2 linked regions of the Homo sapiens genome follow. The protein of the gene in region 1 purifies or fractionates together with the protein of each later gene. This does not show direct contact. Each region holds a gene or a part of one and is shown on either strand. Other genes may lie near its edges. The genes, in order: ZNF227 and MAP3K20.

Region 1 (7,629 bases):
GGGTGAGACCCTGTCTCAAAAAAATAAAGATTAAAAAAAGAACCACTCCGGCTACCATTTAGAAAGCAGATTATAGGAGCACAAGGGAGGAGGTGGGGAGACCAGCATGGAAGCTATTGTTATAATCCAGGTGAAAGATTTTAACACTCAGACCAGGGAGGTCATGGACATGGTAAGATGCAGACTAACCAGTACCTGAAAGAACAGACACAGGGTTCTCACCAGAATACCTACTTCTTTGGGTTTCTGTTTCCATCATCCAAAGCTTTTCTTCTGCTTCCAATTGGGATACCATATCTGGTTGGAAGGGAAGATGCCCTATGAAAATGTAGATTTTTATGTATTTAAGATGAACACACAACTAAAACACATTTTTGTCTGAACCCTATAAGCCTCACAACCTCTATAGTGATATTTTATTATTTTATTTATTTATTTTGAGACAGAGTCTCACTCTATCGCCCAGGCTGAAGTGCAATGGCACAATCTCGGCTCACTGCAACCTCTGCCTCCAGGGTTCAAGCAAGTCTCCTGCCTCAGCCTCCCGAGTAGTTGGGATTACAGGCACCTGCCACCACACCCGGCTAATTTTTGCATTTTTAGTAGAGATGGGGTTTCACCATGTTGGCCAGGATGGTCTTGAACTCGTGACCTCAAGTGATCCACCCACCCTGGCCTCCCGTATTGCTGCAATTAAAGGCGTAAGCCACCATGCCCGGCCTCTAGAGTGATTTATTTTAAGATGTTTTAAGATCATGAACTATAATAAGAAATTTAGGTTGTAGCCTAGTTCATATATATATAATATATCTCTCTCTCAAGTTATACTTGGCTAATGTCTGTTTTCATCACATTTGCAATGCTGTATCTCACACCATTCACTGAAAATTGTCAGTTTTTGTTGCAATGTGAGCAGTTCCTGATAAGAAGCTCTGATATTTTCTATCCTTATCTGTTTTATTTCATTGAAAAAAAAGCCAGTACAGTGCACTAAGTTAATGCATTGATGGGTTTCATTTGAAAGACAACGTATTTGAAAGATAAAGCATAGAAGCTAATGTGTCCATTTACGGTTCATTTAAAACAGGGTTTTGCAACTGCAGCACTACTATTTTGGACTGGCCAATTCTCTGTTGGGGGCACTGTCCTGTGCACTGTAGGAGATTTTGCAGAATTCCTGGATACTACCCACAAAATGCCAATAGCACCCCTCTGTCAGGTGTGACAACCATTTCCAGACATTGCCAAATATCTTCTGGGGGCGAAATCACCCATGGTTGAGAACCAGCAATTTAAAAGGACAGAATTTTGCCTGAGCAGAAAGACCAGAAAAACCTATCCTGTTTTCCCAGGGATTAGAAAACCTTTTGTCTTCAAGAGCAAAGAACCATTTTAAAAGGTCCAAACCCTTAAACACCTGAGAGCAAAGAGATTCTCAAGGGAACTGAAGTTCAGGGTCAGAGAGTGCCTGTCCTCACCCACTGCAACCAGGTTCTTGAAGTTCTCCACCATGACATCTCGGTACAGCTTCCTCTGGGTAAGATCGAGCAGTCGCAGTTCCTCCCTGGAGAAGACCACAGCCACATCCTTGAATGTCACAGCCTCCTACAATATCAAACACATGTAACCTCAATCTTACAACCAACCTTCACTAGAAGAAGGGTGGCATCAAGAAGGAAAAGAGCACCACAAAAAAGTTGTTATAGATTCCAAGAGATCTCAGTCAATTTTCAGCTGTTACAGTTTTCCCTGTCTCACTATCTCCTACGCTCATCCCCATAAAGCCTGTAGTTTATCACTGTTTTTTGTTTTTTTCTTTTTTGAGATGGAGTCTCACTCTGTCACCCGTGCTGGAGCAGTGGCGCAATCTCTGCTCACTGCAACCTCCGCCTCCCGGGTTCAAGAGATTCTCCTGCCTTAGCCTCCCAAGTAGGTGGGATTACAGGCGTCTACTACCATGCCCGGCTAATTTTTGTATTTATTTAGTAGAGACGGGGTTTCACCATGTTGGCCAGGCTGGTCTCAAACTCCTGACCTCCAATGATCTGCCCGCCTTGGCCTCCCAAAGTGCTGTGATTATAGGTGTGAGCCACTGAGCCTGGCCCTATCATTGTTTTTAACGTTTGCAAAGTTCACAGGCCTTCAGCAACCCCCTGGACAGGTATATAGCTCTTCCTGTGCTTTCAAGGCACATGTCACATCCACCTACTACAGGATGCACAGCTGCTTAATTTAAAGCACTGGCTCTGGAGTCTGGCCAGGTTCAAATTTCAAGGTTTTGCCTTTTACTAGTTATAGGACCTTGGGCAAATTCCTTAATCTCTCACTAACTGAATTTCCTCTTCTTTATCATTGTATCTAAATTATAAGGTGTATGAGCCTGACACAGAAGGATCACTTCAGCCCAGGAGTTTGACGGTGCAGTGAGCCATGATTGTGCCACTGCACTTCAGCCTGGGCAACAGAGTGAGACCCTGTCTCAATTTTTAAAAATAAATTTTCAGGCTAGGCACAGTGGCTCACACCTGTAATGCCAGCACTTTGGGAGGCCGAGGCGGGCAAATCACTTGAGGCCAGGAGTTTGAGACCAGCCTGGCTAAGATGCTGAAACCCCGTCTCTACTAAAAATACAAAAAAATTAGCCAGGCGTGGTGATGTGCGTCTGTAATCCCAGCTACTCAGGAGGCTGAGGCAGGAGAATCACTTGAACCTGGGAAGCGGAGGTTGCAGTGAGCCAAGATGGCGCCACTGCACTCCAGCCTGGGTGACAGGGGTGAGACACTGTCTTAAAATAAATAAATTTTTAGAATTAAAATAAATAGATCATAAAGTGTTTGAAAGGATCAGATGAATGAATATATGTCAAGCACTTAGAAGTGCCTAGCACACCATACATGCTCAATAAACTCGAACAACGCATATCTTTATCATCTCTTTTGTCCTATTTTGTGACTACATACAACAGGATTCCTTGGAACTGAAGATTTATCTCTAACCAATCCAAATAATGTACAATTAATTACAGATTTTTACTTATAACCAATACTACAAAGATCCTTTTACAGAGCTCATGGCCAAGAAGTAGCAACTGCAAAGTCATAGAATATTTACTTTAAAAGTTTTGAGGGGTGGAGCCAAGATGGCTGAATAGGAACAGCTCCGGTCTACAGCTCCCAGCATGAGCAATGCAGAAGACGGGTGATTTCTGCATTTCCATCTGAGGTACTGGGTTCATCTCACTAGGGAGTGCCAGACAGTGGGCGCAGGGCAGTGGGTGCAGCACACTGGGTGTGAGCCAAAGCAGGGTGAGGCATTGCCTCACTTGGGAAGCACAAGGGGTCAAGGAGTTCCCTTTCCTAGTCAAAGAAAGGGGTGACAGACGGCACCTGGAAAATCAGGTCACTCCCACCCTAATACTGCGCTTTTCCAATGGACTTAAAAAACGGCACACCAGGAGATTATATCCTGCACATGGCTCGGAGGGTCCTACGCCCACAGAGTCTCGCTGATTGCTAGCACAGCAGTCTGAGATCAAACTGCAAGGAGGCAGCGAGGCTGGGGGAGGGCGCCTGCCATTGCCCAGGCTTGATTAGGTAAACAAAGCAGCCTGGAAGCTCGAACTGGGTGGAGCCCACCACAGCTCAAGGAGGCCTGCCTGCCTCTGTAGGCTCCACCTCTAGGGGCAGGGCACAAACAAAAAGACAGCAATAACCTCTGCAGACTTAAATGTCCCTGTCTGACAGCTTTGAACAGAGTAGTGGTTCTCCCAGCATGCAGCTGGAGATCTGAGATCCGGCAGACTGCCTCCTGAAGTGGGTCCTTGACCTCCAAGCAGCCTAACTGGGAGACACCCCCCCAGTAGGGGCAGACTGACACCTCACACAGCTGAGTACTCCTCTGAGACAAAACTTCCAGAGGAACAATCAGGCAGCAGCATTTGCAGATCACCAATATCTGCTGTTCTACAGCCACCGCTGTTCTGCAGCCACCGCTGCTGATACCCAGGCAAAAAGGGTCTGGAGTGGACCTCTAGCAAACTCCAACAGACCTGCAGCTGAGGGTCCTGTCTGTTAGAAGGAACACTAACAAACAGAAAGGACATCCACACCAAAAACCCATCTGTACATCACCAGCATCAAAGACCAAAACTAGATAAAACCATAAAGATGGGGAAAAAACAGAGCAGAAAAACTGGAAACTCTAAAAAGCAGAGCGCCTCTCCTCCTCCAAAGGAATGCAGCTCCTCACCAGCAATGGAACAAAGCTGGATGGAGAATGACTTTGACGAGTTGAGAGAAGGCTTCAGACGATCAAACTACTCCGAGCTTCAGGAGGAAATTCAAACAAATGGCAAAGAAGTTAAAAACTTTGAAAAAAATTTAGACAAATGTATAACTAGAATAACCAATACAGAGAAGTGCTTAAAGGAGCTGATGGAGCTGAAAGCCAAGGCTCGAGAACTACATGAAGAATGCAGAAGCCTCAGGAGCCGATGCGATCAACTGGAAGAAAGGGTATCAGTGATGGAAGATGAAATGAATGAAATGAAGCGAGAACGGAAGTTCAGAGAAAAAAGAATAAAAAGAAACGAACAAAGCCTCCAAGAAATATGGGACTATGTGAAAAGACCAGATCTACGTCTGATTGGTGTACCTGAAAGTGACGGGGAGAATGGAACCAAGTTGGAAACACTCTGCAGGATATTATCCAAGAGAACTTCCCCAATCTAGCAAGGCAGGCCAACATTCAGATTCAGGAAATACAGAGAACGCCACAAAGATACTCCTCGAGAAGAGCAACTCCAAGACACATAATTGTCAGATTCACCAAAGTTGAAATGAAGGAAAAAATGTTAAGGGCAGCCAGAGAGAAAGGTCAGGTTACCCACAAAGGGAAGCCCATCAGACTAACAGCGGATCTCTCGGCAGAAACTCTACAAGCCAGAAGAGAGTGGGGGCCAATATTCAACATTCTTAAAGAAAAGAATTTTCAACCCAGAATTTCATATCCAGCCAAACTAAGCTTCATAAGTGAAGGAGAAATAAAATACTTTACAGACAAGCAAATGCTGAGAGATTTTGTCACCACCAGGCCTGCCCTAAAAGACCTCCTGAAGGAAGCACTAAACATGGAAAGGAACAACCAGTACCAGCCACTGCAAAATCATGCCAAAATGTAAAGACCATCAAGGCTAGGAAGAAACTGCATCAACTAACGAGCAAAATAACCAGCTAACATCAAAATGACAGGACAAAATTCACACATAACAATATTAACTTTAAATGTAAATGGGCTAAATGCACCAATTAAAAGACATAGACTGGCAAATTGGATAAAGAGTCAAGACCCATCAGTGTGCTGTATTCAGGAAACCCATCTCACGTGCAGAGACACACATAGGCTCAAAATAAAAGGATGGAGGAAGATCTACCAAGCAAATGGAAAACAAAAAAAAGGCAGGGGTTGCAATCCTTGTCTCTGATAAAACAGACTTTAAACCAACAAAGATCAAAAGAGACAAAGAAGGCCATTACATAATGGTAAAGGGATCAATTCAACAAGAGCTAACTATCCTAAATATATATGCACCTAATACAGGAGCACCCAGATTGATAAAGCAAGTCCTGAGTGACCTACAAAGAGACTTAGACACCCACACAATAATAATGGGGGACTTTAACACCCCACTGTCAGCATCAGACAGATCAACGAGACAGAAAGTTAACAAGGATACCCAGGAATTGAACTCAGCTCTGCACCAAGTGGACCTAATAGACATCTACAGAACTCTCCACCCCAAATCAACAGAATATACATTTTTTTCAGCACCACACCACAACTATTCCAAAATTGACCACATAGTTGGAAGTAAAGCTCTCCTCAGCAAATGTAAAAGAACAGAAATTATAACAAACTGTCTGTCTCTCAGACCACAGTGTAATCAAACTAGAACTCAGGATTAAGAAACTCACTCAAAACTGCTCAACTACATGGAAACTGAACAACCTGCTCCTGAATGACTACTGGGTATATAACAAAATGAAGGCAGAAATAAAGATGTGTCTTTGTTCTCATTGGTTTCAAAGAACAACATACCAGAATCTCTGGGACGCATTCAAAGCAGTGTGTAGAGGGAAATTTATAGCACTAAATGCCCACAAGAGAAAGCAGGAAAGATCCAAAACTGACACCCTAACATCACAATTAAAAGAACTAGAAAAGCAAGAGCTAACACATTCAAAAGCTAGCAGAAGGCAAGAAATAACTAAAATCAGAGCAGAACTGAAGGAAATAGAGACACAAAAAACCCTTCAAAAAATTAATGAATCCAGGAGCTGGTTTTTTGAAAAGATCAACAAAATTGATAGACCGCTAGCAAGACTAATAAAGAAAAAAAGAGAGAAGAATCAAATAGACCCAATAAAAAATGATAAATGGGATATCACCACTGATCCCACAGAAATACAAACTACCATCAGAGAATACTACAAACACCTCTACGCAAATAAATTAGAAAATCTAGAAGAAATGGATAAATTCCTCAACACATACACCCTCCCAAGACTAAACCAGGAAGAAGTTGAATCTCTGAATAGACCAATAACAGGCTCTGAAATTGTGGCAATAATCAATAGCTTACCAACCAAAAAGAGTCCAGGACCAGATGGATTCACAGCAGAATTCTACCAGAGGTACAAGGAGGAGCTGGTACCATTCCTTCTGAAACTATTCCAATCAATAGAAAAAGAGGGAATCCTCCCTAACTCATTTTATGAGGCTAGCATCATCCTGATACCAAAGCCAGGCAGAGACACAACCAAAAAAGAGAATTTTAGACCAATATCCTTGATGAACATTGATGTAAAAATCCTCAATAAAATACTGGCAAACCAAATCCAGCAGCACATCAAAAAGCTTATCCACCATGATCAAGTGGGCTTCATCCCTGGGATGCAAGGCTGGTTCAACATACGCAAATCAATAAATGTAATACAGCATATAAAGAAACCCAAAGACAAAAACCACATGATTATCTCAATAGATGCAGAAAAGGCCTTTGACAAAATTCAACAACCCTTCATGCTAAAAACTCTCAATAAATTAGGTATTGATGGGACATATCTCAAAATAATAAGAGCTATCTATGACAAACCCACAGCCAATATCATACTGAATGGGCAAAAACTGGAAGCATTCCCTTTGAAAACTGGCACAAGACAGGGGTGCCCTCTCTCACCACTCCTATTCAACATAGTGTTGGAAGTTCTGGCCAGGGCAATCAGGCAGGAGAAGGAAATAAAGGGTATTCAATTAGGAAAAGAGGAAGTCAAATTGTCCCTGTTTGCAGATGACATGATTGTATATCTAGAAAACCCCATTGTCTCAGCCCAAAATCTCCTTAAGCTGATAAGCAACTTCAGCAAAGTCTCAGGATACAAAGTCAATGTACAAAAATCACAAGCATTCTTATACACCAATAACAGACAAACAGAGAGCCAAATCATGAGTGAACTCCCATTCACAATTGCTTCAAAGAGAATAAAATACCTAGGAATCCAACTTACAAGGGATGTGAAGGACCTCTTCAAGGAGAACTACAAACCACTGCTCGATGAAATAAAAGAGGAT
Region 2 (7,629 bases), on another chromosome or scaffold:
AAAAATCTGAGTGCTAGTTATTTATATTTAAAGCGTGTTGGGGAAGACTGCTACTTGATTAAATTATGTTCTAATTTTTCAAATGTATTCTCCACTTAATGAATATACCAGAATTTAATAAAAAGTCATCTATATAAATTTATTTACATGGTATATCAAATCAAATCCAACGTTTTCATCTCACTGCATTAAAAGAATTGTTTTGGCCAGGCACGGTGGCTCACGCCTATAGTCCCAGCACTTTGGGAAGCCGAGATGGGTGGATCACTTGAGGTCAGGAGTTCGAGACCAGCCTGGTCAACATGGCAAAACCCCATCTCTACTAAAAATGCAAAAATTAGCCAGGCATGGTGGCGTGCATCTGTAATCACAGCTACCTGGGAGGTTGAGGCAGGAGAATTGCTCGAACCGTAGAGGCAGAGGTTACTGTGAGCCAAGATCGCACCACTGCACTCCAGCCTGGACAACAGAGCAAGGCTCTATCTCAAAAAAAAAAAAAAAAAAAAAAAAAAAAATTGCTTTTACACAAAAAAGGCAATTTTGCTCCACGCAACAATGCTCAGTTTTAGTTTTGTAGGATTCTAACTGTTGTTTTATAAACTCTCAAAGCTGTTTTAAATGTTAAGTATCTACCATACAATACTGAAGGGTAAGTTAGAGCAGAAATGTCACAAAAATCAAAGTAAAATAAGGCATCACAACTCTGTAAATGTTGAAAATCAATAATTTGGTGGTTGAATCCAATCATTTCACTACTTGAGTAGAATGTCAAAAAATTTTTAATTTAAAGTTTTCCTTAAATTAAAATTCAAAAACATTTAACTATTAACCAAATTGCTGAAAGCATATATAGCAGCATCACCTAATTATGAAAAGTGGAAACATAAGAAGGTAGGAAATCTTAAAGAATTATTTTACTTTTTAAAGTTTTCAATCTTCTAGTCCAAAAAAATAGACTTAAGTTTCTCTATTCACAGACCTTCTATTTTGCTTCTTGATTTTTCAGATCCATGTTGACCTCAAATAAGTCATTTACCTTTTCACTGTTACTTTTGCCCCAAATTAAAAACAAAAATGACCCCACTACAGTTCTAATGTTAAAAAGCAAGGTTTTAGAATTAGATTGATAGGAGTTTGAACTCTCCCTCCACCTCTCGGTAACTTTAACAAATCACTTTTTCTCAGACTGTGGCATTTCCAGATGCATAAATAAAAAATTTCAAATCTTTTCCATTCAATGTCACAAAACTGATAGCCCCAAAGTTATCAAGTTTGCATAGTATTTGACTTCATTGATACATCTCACTTCCAAATAAGAGATATTTCAACAGGGAAGTAGCATGATTCAGGGTAAAGACCCCTACTAGAGAGATCTATGAGCAGATCTGTTATTAGCTACTTGGGCAAGGCACTGTGTCTCTCTGACCTCACTGTTCTCACTGGCAATAATACCAGTGCTGTGAAAGTGCATACGTGAGCACAGTGCCTAGTATATGGTATACATGCAATTAATGGAAATTATGGTTTTCTCATTATTTTAATAACCCTTGATATCATATTTAGCCATCTATTCCTTCAGTTTTTATGGTCAGGTATGCTCTCAATAGCTTTCCTCTCCCCATTTTCAGAATTGTTTTATATTATATCTCTTAGTTTTGTAGAGCAATTATTAACAAATAAAGGTGCTATTGATCCCTGAATCCTTTCCCTCTCTTTGCCTATTTTCTAATTCTTTCTCATTCCTCTGTTTAACTGCCGTTTTTGGTTTTTGTCATTTCTGAAAGATCTTATTAGTAAGTAATTATAATTTCTTTTAAGCTTTTTTCATAATGTATTTAAATTGCTAAAACACAATACTTTTCTTTTTTTTTTTTTGCACTTTTTGGACATTAGCATTGCTAAGATCTATTTATTCAATGATAGCACTCACTTTGGTAGGGTGCTGGAGCATCCCCTCCTTCCCCAGTGACCACGGTCTTCTTTCAGACATTATCTGCTGCACAGTCAATTGCACGTCTAACCCAAGAAAACTTAACCTGATTATCCAATACCTGCAAGTGATGATTTTTTAAAAAAAATTAAATCTACTTTGGCCGGGCACAGTGGCTCACACCTGCAATCCCAGCATTTTGGGAAGCAGAGGTTGGAGGATCACTTGAGCTCAGCTGGGGCAACATAGGGAGATCTCATTTCTAAAAGTAAAAATAAAAACCTACTTTATGAAAGGATTAACTTTACTAGAAAAAAGGTCTTTGAACTTTCTCTGGATGTTTCTATCTTGTGGTTTTATATGGGCCTATATTTCTGAATTTAGAGCCTTCCTCTTTTCCTGTCCCTAATTCATACTTTCCTTTCCCCCTTCTTCAAAAAGTAAGGTTGCCAGTTTACTTTTTATACAATATAGGAAGAAAAACTTACACGTTTTATCATGACCTGGATGTGACAAAAAAGATACTTTTTGAAAAGAGCTTTCAATATTCAGCAAATTATTTTGCCAAACTTGCTGCCTTGATATTTATGCTAGTATTATTTCAGCCTCTTTAACATAGATCAGTGAATAAATTAATAATATGTGCTTTGTCATCATGTGTATAAAAAGAACACCACTTGGAATCACTGTTCTGCAATTTTTTTCCCCTGAGTCTTATCTTCAAAAAAATGAGGAAAGCTCTGGTTCAGTGTATTTGTCCGTAACACCAAGGTCAAAGATTCAAAGATTCTATTCCTCAACAGGACTGCTGTTCTACTATTTTTTTTTAATCACTAAAAAAGATAAAAGCTGGCTGGGTACAGTGGCTCACACCTGTAATCCCAGCACTCTGCAAGGCTGAGGCAGGAGGATCGCTTGAGCCCAGGAGGTCGAGGCTGCAGTGAGCTATGATTACGCCACTGCACTCCAGCCTGGGTGACAGTGAGACTCTGTCTCAAAAAAAAAAAATAAAAAATAAAAAAATAAAAGTTGCAAGACTAGGTATAGGAACAGAACCAACTTGTACTGTATCTACCAGATATTTCCTTTCTTCCTCCAAGGCTGCTCCTAGAAAAATAGTGTATCTTATACAGAGTAGGTTGGGTTCAGTAAATAGGACTTCAGGCATAGATATCTGAGAGAACCCAACTTTAAATAAGAATCCAAAAAACAGAATAGCCATTGTTTCATATTTTCCCCCTTCCTCTATCTTTACCATATAAAAGTAATGTAACTCTCTAGTTAGAGCAATGGTAAGAATAAAAATAAGCTAAACATTCTTATTGAAATATTAAAGTAATTTAGTAGTGAGGCATTCTTATTGAAATAATTAAAGTAATTTAATAAAAGTCAACTTCCACAACACACTTCCTTACCAAAAGTATTGTTACCAGAAGTAAAAGATGGGAGGCACAGGAATGTAGTTGGTGGGAGCACTTAACGCCACAGAAATGCTGCGTGGAAACATGTCTGTGCTCAAACAGAAGCCCAACAAGGAAACATGAAGTGGATACAACCTACGGCCACGGCATAGGCCGCTGCGTGGGCTTGTTGTGTTGAGTAGCTGGGAGCTTCTTGCAGCATGAGGAAGAGAATGGGGCCAGAGTTGAATAAAGTGAGGGTGCACGGAGAGGGGAGATTTCTAGGGCTTGGCCAGAAGAGGAATTCACAGGTGTCAGGACTGGGGATGAGGAGAAAGCCGTAGCCTATGAGTAAACAAGGCTCACTTCAGTTCGCTACCTCCCACCTATCCTGCCCCCACCCTAGGTCTTGCTGCTACTCAGCCCTTGTTTGTACCCCAAATCGTTTTCTGTCAAATAGAAAGTATCAGACCATCCTGGCTGCTGACAGACAGGTACAACTTTGGACTGAGTGCCTGGAATGAATACTCCCTGAGAAGGGTGAATGCAAGAGTTAAAACATGGTAACCTCAATGTAAGATGAAGGGTGAAAGGAATGGGGATGGTAAAACTAGGGAAGACTAAGACCTTATATTATGTTTTGATGATCAAGAGGCAAGGCTATCTGTGGATGAAAGTTACAGAAAGAATTTCTGGTTCTTTGGGAGGCCAAAGTGGGAGTATCGCTTGAGGTCAGGCATTTAAGACCAACTTGGGCAGCATAGTGAGATCCCATCTGTACAAAAAATGAATAAATAAAAATTAGCCAGGTGTGGTGGTTCATGCCTGTAGTCCCTGCTACTCAAGAGACTGAGGTGGGAGGATAGCTTGGGCCCAAGAGTTCAAGGTTGCCATAAGCTATGATTATGCCACTGCACAAAGTGAGACCCTGTCTCCAAAAAAAAAACAAAGGATTCCTGGTTTAGAGTTGGCCAACAAGAAAATCTGCCACCCTCTTTAGTAGTGAGTGACCCATCACCAAGAGCGTTCAATGGGATATGCGGTGTAGAGTGGGAGTGGGAGACTCTTGCATCAGCTAAGAGGGCAGAATGAAACCACTTTAAGACCCACTCCAACCCTGTTGAGTTGATGACTAATCTACTATAAAGTATAGACGGTCTCCCTCCTTTTCTGAGGGAAGCAGTCATGAACCCGACACCAAACATCATGGAGAAGCACAGTGAACCACATCAGTGATGGAAATAAAGGAAACGATTTGGCCATCTTCTTCAATTTCTCCTCCCAAACTGGGTGAGAAGCTAAGAGCCACATTCCAGGTTTCTATCCTAAAACTTTCCTCTTCCTTCCCCCCAATTCCCAAAGCAAAGAGATCTCTTTGTCTTGAAAGCCATCGTATAACCACCTAACATCAAAACTCTTTGGATGATGATCTACCCCTATTCTTTTATCAGCAAAATGGAATTGCACTACCCCATGCAGTATTGGGCTGCAGAGCTTAATGGTGCAGGACTCTTTATTAGGACCAATCCCATGTTCCTCGTGTGCTTATTCCCATACGTGGTATTACACAGTACTGTGCAGAAGGTGATATGAATAAACAGCTGTCCTACAGCATCAATTTCACTTTAACACTATGGGGAATAAGCCAGGCAAGGTAGCACATACCCTCAGCCCCAGCTACAGGGAAAGTTCAGGTGGGAGGATTGCTAGAGCACAGGAGTTCAAGGCCAGCCTGGACAACATAGCAAGACTCTGTTTCTAAAAAAAAAAAAAAAAAAAATTTGTCTTTTTTAAAATATGTGTCTGTATCGATTTGTTCAATTTAAGTAAAACAGTGTAGGACAGAAGAGAATGCAAAATCCACATAAATTTTTAAGATTAAATATAAAATTTTAAAGCAAGTACTTGCTTGCATTGGGGTATCTGTGGCTATACGGACAAATTCTTGAAGGAAAACATTCATTTATCCCCACAATAGAGTACTTTGGTAGAAAAGTTTAATAAGTAAAGATTTATTACATGACGTGCAGACAGCAATTCTTTCCTTTTCTTTTTGGTTTTCTTAAATGGAAGCCTGGAGATGAGTCCAGAAAGAAGGGTATTGGGGCCTTGCTCAAAATTAGCTATAAAAATGGTTCCAAGTGGTTCTAAAGCACACTTTAGAAACACTTATACTCAAAGCAGGAGAGTAGTTATGAAAACCTACATACCCACTACATAAGTATAACTTGGGAACAGGACAGGGTACCAAAGGCAAGCCTTAGCTGGAAGAGCTGAGTGCTATGGTAGGAATGCTCCCACCAAAATTCATGTTGAAACTTAATTACTTAATCGCTAATGTAACAGTACTGGGAAGCAGAACCTTTAAGAGGTGATTAGGTCATAAATGGATTCTCACTGTTATCCTGGGAGTAGGTTAATTATCTCAGGAGTTCACTTTTTCTCTTTGTCTTTCATGGCTTGCTTTCGCCTTCCACCCTTCCACAATGGGTGATTCTCGCCAGATGCCAGAGCCATGTACCTGGACTTCCCAGGCTCCAGAACCATGAGCCAAATAAATTACCCTTGTTCCTTGTAAATTACCCAGGCTGTGACAGACTGCTCTAGCAGCAGAAAACAGACTAGGACAGTGGGCAAGCAGCTCTGCGTATAACTTGAGAGATGTAGTAAAACATCCTTCTTTACCACATTGATACAGTGGCTGAAATTTCAGGCACTGTTACAAGCATTTCTATGTGCTTTCTCATAAAGTCATGCACCACATAACTATGCTTTAGTCAACAATGGACTGCATATATAACAGCGATCCCATAAGATTGTAATAAAGCTGAAAAATTCCTATTGCTGAGTGATGGCACAGTTTCCTAACATCATAGCACAATGCATTACTCATGTGTTTGTGGTGATGCTGGTGTAAACAAACTTATTATGCTGCCAGCTGTATAAAGGTACGGCACATACAATTATGTACAGTGCACAATGCTTGATAAGGATAATGACTGTGTTACTCATTTATGTATTTACTATACTTTTTATCCTCATTTTAGAGCATACTCTTTCCACTTAAAAAAAAAAAAAAGAAAATTAACTGAGGCAGGTCCTTCAGGAGGTGTCCAGAAGAAGGCATTGTTATCACTGGAGATGGGGAGATGGCAGCTCCATATACATTACTGCCCCTGAAGACCTTCCAGTGAGCCAAGATGTGGAGGTAGAAAACAGTGATATTGACGATCCTAACCCCATGTGGGGCTAGGCTGATGTGTGTGTTTCTGTCTTAGTTTTTAACAAAGTTTAAGAAGCAAAACAAATTTTTTTTTAAATTTAAAAATAGAAAAAAAATCTTACAGAATAAGGATATAAAGAATTTTTGTATAGCTGTACAATGTGTTTGTGTTTTAAGCTAAGTGTTATTTCAAAAGACTCAAAAAGTTAAAAAAAAGTTTAAAGTTTATAAAACAAGAAAGTTACAGCAAGCTAAGGTTAATTTATTATTGAAGAAAAATGTTTAAATAAATCTAGTAGAGCCTAAGTGTACAGTGTTTATAAAGTCTACAGTAGTGTACAGTGATGTCCTGGGCCTTCACATTCCCTCACCACTCACTCACTGACTTGCCCCAAACAACTTCCAGTCCTGCAACCTCCATTCATGGTAAATGCCCTATACGGGTGTACCATTTTTTATCTTTGATACTGTATATTTTATACTGTATTTTTACTGTGCCTTTTCTATTTTTCGATAGAAATACTTATTACTGTGTTACAACTGCCTATTCAGTATAGCAGCATGCTACATAGGTCTGTAGCCTAGGAGCAACGGACTATCTCACACAGCCTAGGTGTGTAGTAGGCTATAGCATCTAGGTTTGTGTAGGTGCACGCTGTGGTATTTACACAACTACAACATCACGTAACAACACAGTTCTCTCAGAACGTATCCCCATCATTAATGGACACATGACTGTACTTATCCTTAGGAAGCAGGTACTACTGTTCCTAACTTACATGAGTGAGAAAACTGAGGATCAGGGGTATGAAAGTAGCTCAAGCCAACTACCTTACAGGTGACACAACTTGTGTCAAATTCAGGCCTGACTCCAAAGTCATATCATTGTTTTCTACCATATCATGTCTTTTTGTTAATAACATTCTGCCTCCTCCTTCTAATTTGCCTTTTGTTTACCCTATTTAAACTATTTTCTTATTACAGTAATTACTGGATTGCTCACCATCCACCTAAAGTTCAATTTGAGGCTTTAATTTCCTATTACAATTGAAGACACTGGGGTTAGGGTGTCAAAT

What was found.
Region 2: the proteins of ZNF227 (region 1) and MAP3K20 purify together in Homo sapiens (affinity purification with mass spectrometry; 2 studies listed by BioGRID and IntAct, with this or other methods). This does not show direct contact.

The regions. Positions count from the first base shown.
Region 1 is NC_000019.10:44,222,422-44,230,050, reverse strand, and holds part of ZNF227 (zinc finger protein 227), read right to left. Parts: intron 2,920-7,629; exon of another isoform or gene 1,606-2,919; coding exon 1,479-1,605; exon of another isoform or gene 1,088-1,478; intron 319-1,087; coding exon 235-318; intron 1-234. UniProt on the Homo sapiens protein: May be involved in transcriptional regulation.
Region 2 is NC_000002.12:173,078,671-173,086,299, reverse strand, and holds part of MAP3K20 (mitogen-activated protein kinase kinase kinase 20), read right to left. Parts: intron 1-7,629. UniProt on the Homo sapiens protein: Stress-activated component of a protein kinase signal transduction cascade that promotes programmed cell death in response to various stress, such as ribosomal stress, osmotic shock and ionizing radiation.